Regions from separate parts of the Homo sapiens genome. Here region 2 is reported to be linked to region 1. The links are microRNA targets in miRTarBase. Many come from high-throughput screens and were not tested one by one. Region 1 holds a microRNA gene; the other region holds the end of a gene's coding sequence.

What was found. Region 1 holds the annotated microRNA hsa-miR-100-5p (AACCCGUAGAUCCGAACUUGUG, at 2,059-2,080, shown strand). A microRNA usually pairs through its seed, bases 2 to 8, with sites in the 3' UTR of a target mRNA and lowers its output. Matches are read on the target gene's strand: a 7mer-m8 pairs with bases 2 to 8, a 7mer-A1 pairs with bases 2 to 7 and ends in A, and an 8mer does both.
Region 2: the mRNA of MTCL2 is a reported target of hsa-miR-100-5p. The part of its 3' UTR that is shown has no 7-base or 8-base seed match.

What each region holds. Positions count from the first base shown.
Region 1 is chr11:122,151,252-122,154,354 of GRCh38, reverse strand. MIR100 (microRNA 100) reads left to right here and starts at 2,047; the gene lies at 2,047-2,126. All of the region lies in intron 4 of MIR100HG (mir-100-let-7a-2-mir-125b-1 cluster host gene), which reads left to right. MIR10526 (microRNA 10526) reads left to right here and starts at 2,199; the gene lies at 2,199-2,252.
Region 2 is chr20:36,784,002-36,787,104 of GRCh38, forward strand. It overlaps MTCL2 (microtubule crosslinking factor 2), which reads right to left. Exons shown (of 15, transcript NM_080627.4): 15 at 1-2,636. The coding sequence ends at 2,484. Among named protein-coding and RNA genes, the nearest start is that of DSN1, 12 kb to the left of the region's middle.

The DNA.
Region 1 (3,103 bases):
ATTGTATCGTTCTAGTAAGCGTGATGATAACAATTCATTCTCATTACTCTGGGACGTTGGGCTTATTCTGCTCCATTATAATAGGAGCACCTACATCCCCCACATTCCAGCAATATTTAACAGGGTTCAAAGTGGCCATCCTCAAATACCTCTAGCCCCATGCCTTTGTCAGAGAGACGGAAGGAAAAGAAGCAGCTCAGAGCTTATTTAAAAGTCTTTTATTTTAGAAAGGAAATGAACATTTTAAAATAAAATAAATAAAGACCATCTGGGGGTGACTGATTTGGATACTACTTACTTCCACTTGCTATTGTTATTTCTTTGGATCTGAAAATTAAGCCACAGAGCTACAACTAGATTCTCAGTTTTGCCAACCTTCACAGCACCAGCAGGCTCTGAGCAATTGTACCACAGCTCACTTGTGATGAGATGGGGAAACAACAAAGTATCTATGAATGGTTATGTCTCAGTTTCTGTTCATCGTACTGTTGGTTTCCTGTTCTCTTTATTTAACTTTTTAGGTTGCATACACGAGGGCCTGCTCTTTTCTCTGAATAATTCCTCAATTCAGCTCTGTCTTTTTTTGTTCCCCTTGGTAGGGCTTCAGTTCATCTCCCAGATTCTTTTTTTTTTTTTTTTTTTTTTTTTTTGAGACAAAATCTCACTCTGTTGCCTAGGCTGGAGTGCAGTGGCACAATCTCGGCTCATTGCAACCTCTGCCTCCCAGGCTCAAGCAACTCTCATGCCTCAGCCTCCAGAGTAGCTGGGATTACAGGCGCACGCCACCATGCCCAGCTAATTTTTTTGTATTTTTAGTAGAGACAGGGTTTCACCCTGTTGGCCAGGCTGGTCTTGAACTCCTGACCTCAAGTGATCTGCCAGCCTTGGGCTCCCAAAGTGCTGGGATTACACACATGAGCCACCAGTGCCTGGCCCCAGATTCTTGAGAAAGGAGTGAATGTCCATTTTTTGAGGCAAATGAGATAATTATTTTGAGAGCCAGGATCCATAATTATAGCTAACAAAAGTTAAAAAGGTCTCTTTTTAGGTCCTGTAAAGGGATGGAGTCATGTGTGTTTCCCAGCATCTAGGACAGGGAGTTATTTAGCTGTATAATATATGTCCCTGAAGTGCTTATGATTATGCCTGTCTTCAATACAATTCACAAAAGGCGTCGTTAATGAAAGTCCATTGTCTTGGATGTTCCCTTCTTATATGTAGAACATTGGCTTTGCAGAAAAAAAATGTTATGTTGACAAATGCAATCATTTTATAAGAAGGTCTCTGAAACAGATTCATCCCTGTTTTTTCAAACAGTATTGCGGGGGGCGGGGGGTGCGGGGGGAAGGAGGAACAACTATGTAATTTCTTCTATGGTTCAAATTTTACAGAGTACACCCAAACTTGCTCATTGTTGGTGTTTGAATCAATAATAAGTGTGGGGATGGGATGGGGGTGGGAACAAAAATGCAAACTTTTCCCGAAGATGGATCTTAATATACCTGAAAATCTACTCTAGAGTGGTTTTCAAAAAAAAAAAAAATATACCTATAAATCCGTTGGTAGTACTTGCTAAGTTTATTCTAGTTGTTTTCCAGAATGCAAATAGGAAAATGAAAATTTCACCATCATTTTTAATGTAATGACAGGTATTTAAAGGAATGGACTTGCATTTGGGCTCTCATGTGTTCTTTCTCTCTGCCTACAATTTAAAGAATTTTCTTTATTCTGCTGGTTTGCCATTTTGGTATCACTTTGCCCAGATTATGTGTTCAGCAGTGAATAAATGAGTCTTCCATATATAAACAGTAAAATGATGAGGTTTACCTAAAGTCCACTGGATTTGTGGAAAAAGTGGAAACCAAGGGAAGCACGTTGGGGAGAACATAGAAGATATTGCTTAACTTTTGCTTTTGTGAGAGTGGGACGAAGTCCTTTCCATTTATGGCATAAAACAATTGAATGGTAGACTCTTTTATTGGATTAATGGTTGTAATATTTTATTTTCAGACATGTCACAGCCCCAAAAGAGAGAAGATATTGAGGCCTGTTGCCACAAACCCGTAGATCCGAACTTGTGGTATTAGTCCGCACAAGCTTGTATCTATAGGTATGTGTCTGTTAGGCAATCTCACGGACCTGGGGCTTTGCTTATATGCCATTCAATATCCCTTCGAGTTATTTCATTCTCCTTCTCTTCCCCTTAGTTTCCTTTAAGAGTGATAAAAATGGAAAAGGGGGCTGAGGTGGAGGAAGGAGACCTTTTGTCCTGAAATGAATGAGGTTCTTCAATGATGAATTAATAGGCTGGCCCTCAATTCCCATATCTCTTGTAACTGGTCTCTGCTGTCAAATTAGAAGGCTGAGCTTACAGGTGAGGCAGCAAGAATTTGAGTGATTGGAACAACTTACTGTTGAGTGATGAGTAAAGAGATAAACAAGGGTTTGTTTTGTTTTCTGTAAGCCTAATTGTTTTCAAAGTTATTATGATATTTTCTGGAAAGTGGCAGATGTGTTTACAGGACCAATTTCACCGTGATTTGGGTTTTTGGGTTTTCCTTTGTTGCAATTCTTCCTCCCCCAATTTCCCCAATAATTTTGCTTCTGAAGATAAGGACTGATAAATCAGAATGGATGTGTTTAACTGCCTAACTATTTATACTTCTATTTATATCCAGCAGTGTAAGAAGGACTTCTTATAAAAAAGAGATCGCCTGTTTAGGTCCAAATTCATATTTGGCCAGAGCTGTTTTATAAGTCTTTATCCTGTTTAAAACGCTGGAATGAAAATAATTTTATCCTCTTGCCTCTTAAATGTCACCATTGTGCCAGGATTGAAAAGCTAAACTGACCACAGATCAAAGCAAAACTGGCTATATTTGTTTCATTCCAACAATGTGAGCTGAGGAGTCTGTAAACAGAACTAGAACCCAGGGTGAAAAGTTGATCAGATTTGGATGACTCTAAAACTTTTGCATGCCCTTTTGGTAAAACATAGTGCCAGAAGTTCCCTTAAGATGTGTGTGTGTGTGTGTGTGTGTGTGTGTGTGTGTGTGTGTGTCCTCTTCTAACAAAAAAAGTCAACATGAAGTAGTTGGTGGGT
Region 2 (3,103 bases), not on the chromosome of region 1:
GGTCTGGCTGAGACAACAAAGATGGCAAGGACAATCCTGGACGGTACGATGGTAAGGCTGAGTGGTCCGTAGGTCTTGGGGCTCAGGTCCCACGGGGATTTCTCCCCGAGGCTGAGTACGCAGCCTCCCTGGCTGTCGCTCTGGGAGGTGGCAGAAGGCCTCTGGTGGCTTGTGGCCTGATGTGAATCCCCTCACCTGGAGATAACCTTGGAGGGCCCCCCTGACCTCATGGGTGAGAGCAGCAGCATCCAAGAGCGGAACTGGCCCACAGCTCCACTGGCTGCCTGCTCTGCCCACACCAGTCACTGGGGCATGGAGGAGGCGGCTGGCGGGACTGGCATGACCCTGGTGTTCAGCCTGCAGGGAAGGGAGATGCAGGACTTGGGGTAACTGGTCCAGGTGATCCCGAATGGGTGGGTCTGGGAACTGGCAGGTGGGAGGTGGGAGTGCAGGGGCGCCTCCAGAGTCCTGGGGGCAGATCAGCAAAGCTACTGGCTTTTGGTCTTCCTGATGGGCAATTCTGCAGACAAGCTGATCCATCCTGGTGTTTCCACTCTGGGTCCCCAGTCAGTTACAGGAAGGCTGATGTCTATGTGTGTGTGGGGAGCATGTGTGCAACCAAAAGGGGTTCACCGGCACCAAGGCGAGGCCATGGGAGGCGCTGCCCCACATGCTGCAATGAGCCACATCGAAATCCAACCAATGGCTCAGGCAGCTCACAGGGGACGTGAGGAAGGGCGGGCAGCAGAGCTGGGGCAGGGAGAAGAGCCGTGAAAGGCCATAAGGCTAAGGAGAGAGGCTGGTGAAAAGGCTGGCAGGCTGGTGAGAACCGAGGCAGGCTGGGAGACACTCAGGTTTATGTGCAAAGCTGCGATAAACAACATTCTCAAAGTTCAGTCCTGTTTTCCTGTGAGTTCTCATTTGGGAAACTTGGAGGGATCTCCACACTCTTAATAGAGCTTTAGTAATCCACGTTCGACTCATGAAGAAAGGTGTCAGAGGGAGGGAGGGAAATGAGACAGGCAATGGAGAACGTCTGGGGAGTGGTGATGGCCGTCCAGCCCTCCACCTTGTCAGTGAGTATTTATAGACTGACCGCTGGGGCTGGCCAAGTACCAGGCATTGAGTAATAAGTAGTGTTCTGAGGCCACATGGCCAGCCGTGTTGGGGTGCAGGGCTCCAGCTCTGTTGAGGGGCCCTCCAAAGCTGACCAGGAGGCCAGGTCTCCAAACCTGGCTGCCAAGCGGCCTCGTCCACCCAGGGGACCCCATGCCTGCCCGTGCTGTTAGAGGCCTCATGTTGTCCCAGTGGCAAGAATGCATGTTTCAACCTCCAATAAATTACCTTAGGGACTTTGGGGTAAATTAAATTATTAAAATAAAGTAAACCACCTTAAATATTTATAGTAGGAAAAATTCAAATAAACAATCTAGGCAAGATACGTGTTTCCAGGCCCCAGTCTACTGCTGTGTCCTGGGCTCTGGCCTCTTGGTGTTCTCCTGGGCCTGACCTGGCCAACCAAGAATCTCTTACTGGGAATATCTTTGCCCCCCGACCAGCTGCAGGATGTAAACACAGTGGAGATGTAGTGCCTGCTGCCTCTCAGGGTGCCAGGGAAAGAGGCCTCTGAGATCACTTGAGATCAAGGCAGTGTATTTAGGCATTTATCTATGCACCAGGTCTTGAGACTGACTCTACCTATTTCTGTCCTCAAGGGGTCTGCTGGGAACGTTGGGGCCCCAAGTCACTTTGGCAAGGAAGGCAATTGCAATCACTCCCCAACCCTGAGCCCTGCATGTTTCCACTTCGCCTCCCAGCTCTTGCTGCATCCAGGCTATGGGCAGGGAGATCCAGGGCTCCAGGACACTAAGCAATGGCCCTGGCTACTGCCCTATCATACTCCCTAGTGTCCCAGCAATCTAGAGCAGTGGGGCTGGGAGGAGGAGGTGGTGGAGAGAAGGAGGTGATGGTGATGATGCCCAACAGGGCTCCACCAGGAACCAAACATGGAGCCCTAGAGCAAAGCCTGTTCTTCTCAGCAGTGTCTCCTCCCAAATGAAGGGGTGGATGGTCAGCAGGAAACATCTCTCCGACTCCTTTTCCCCAAAGGCATGGCCAGACATGTATCCTTCTTGGGCTCTTCCAAGAGGGTGGCATGGGCAGAACCAGGCAAGGCTCTCTCTTAGGACCCAGGGATCGGCTCTTGACAGATCTCTCAGTGGATGCTTGGGAAGCCCAGGTTTGGTCTCTCTCCCACTCACTGCCTTCCCCTGGGAAGTCGAAGCTCACCACCCAGGGGCCAGCAGGAGACCCGGCTTTACCTTGATGTGAAAGCTGCATTCTGGCAGTGGCATCACTGCTGTCCCTCCAGGGCCAGGCAATGCTGAGGACACAGCCCCTCGCCTCACCTCGTCTCGTCTCTGCTGGTTCCCTTCTGCTATCCAGGGGCTGGGCTGGTTGAGGCGGGGAGCTTGGCTGCTCTGTCACTCGCTGGGGGGGAGTGCCCTCTCCTCCCCACCCCAGCTGGACTCTGAAGGGTGCAGCCTGCACTTGGAAGGAGAGTGGCGGATGGCAGAGCGGGACGATCGGGCGAAGCAGGAGGTGAGAGACTGGGTACTACAGTCACAAACAGCGTCCTAGGAAGAGGGAGGCAGGGAGGCAGGAAGTCAAGAGGAGCCAGGAGACATGGACCACCATGAGCTGTGTGGTATGCCAGGCAAGGAACTGAGACTCGGCCATAAACCAGTTCCCAGGGGCTGAAGCTCCTCACTGGACCAATTTTTTCTTTCTGTTGTTCTTCTCCCATTAGAGCGGTAATGGAAGTTCATTGTAATATATTCTAGGCTATACAGAGAGGACAGTGGACACTGTCCATGGTCCTGCACGCCAAAGAGATTCTTAACATACATTTACCAAAATGACAGCTTATTTTGCAACTGTAAAACACGAACACTTTTCTGTCACTAGGTATGTCTAGATCTCCTTCCTTTTTATCCTTTTTTTTCGTTTGAGACAGGGTCTCACTATGTTGCTCAGGCTGGTCTTGAACTCCTGGGCTCAAGCGATCCTCCTGCCTCAGCCTCCCAAACTGCTGGAATTAGCA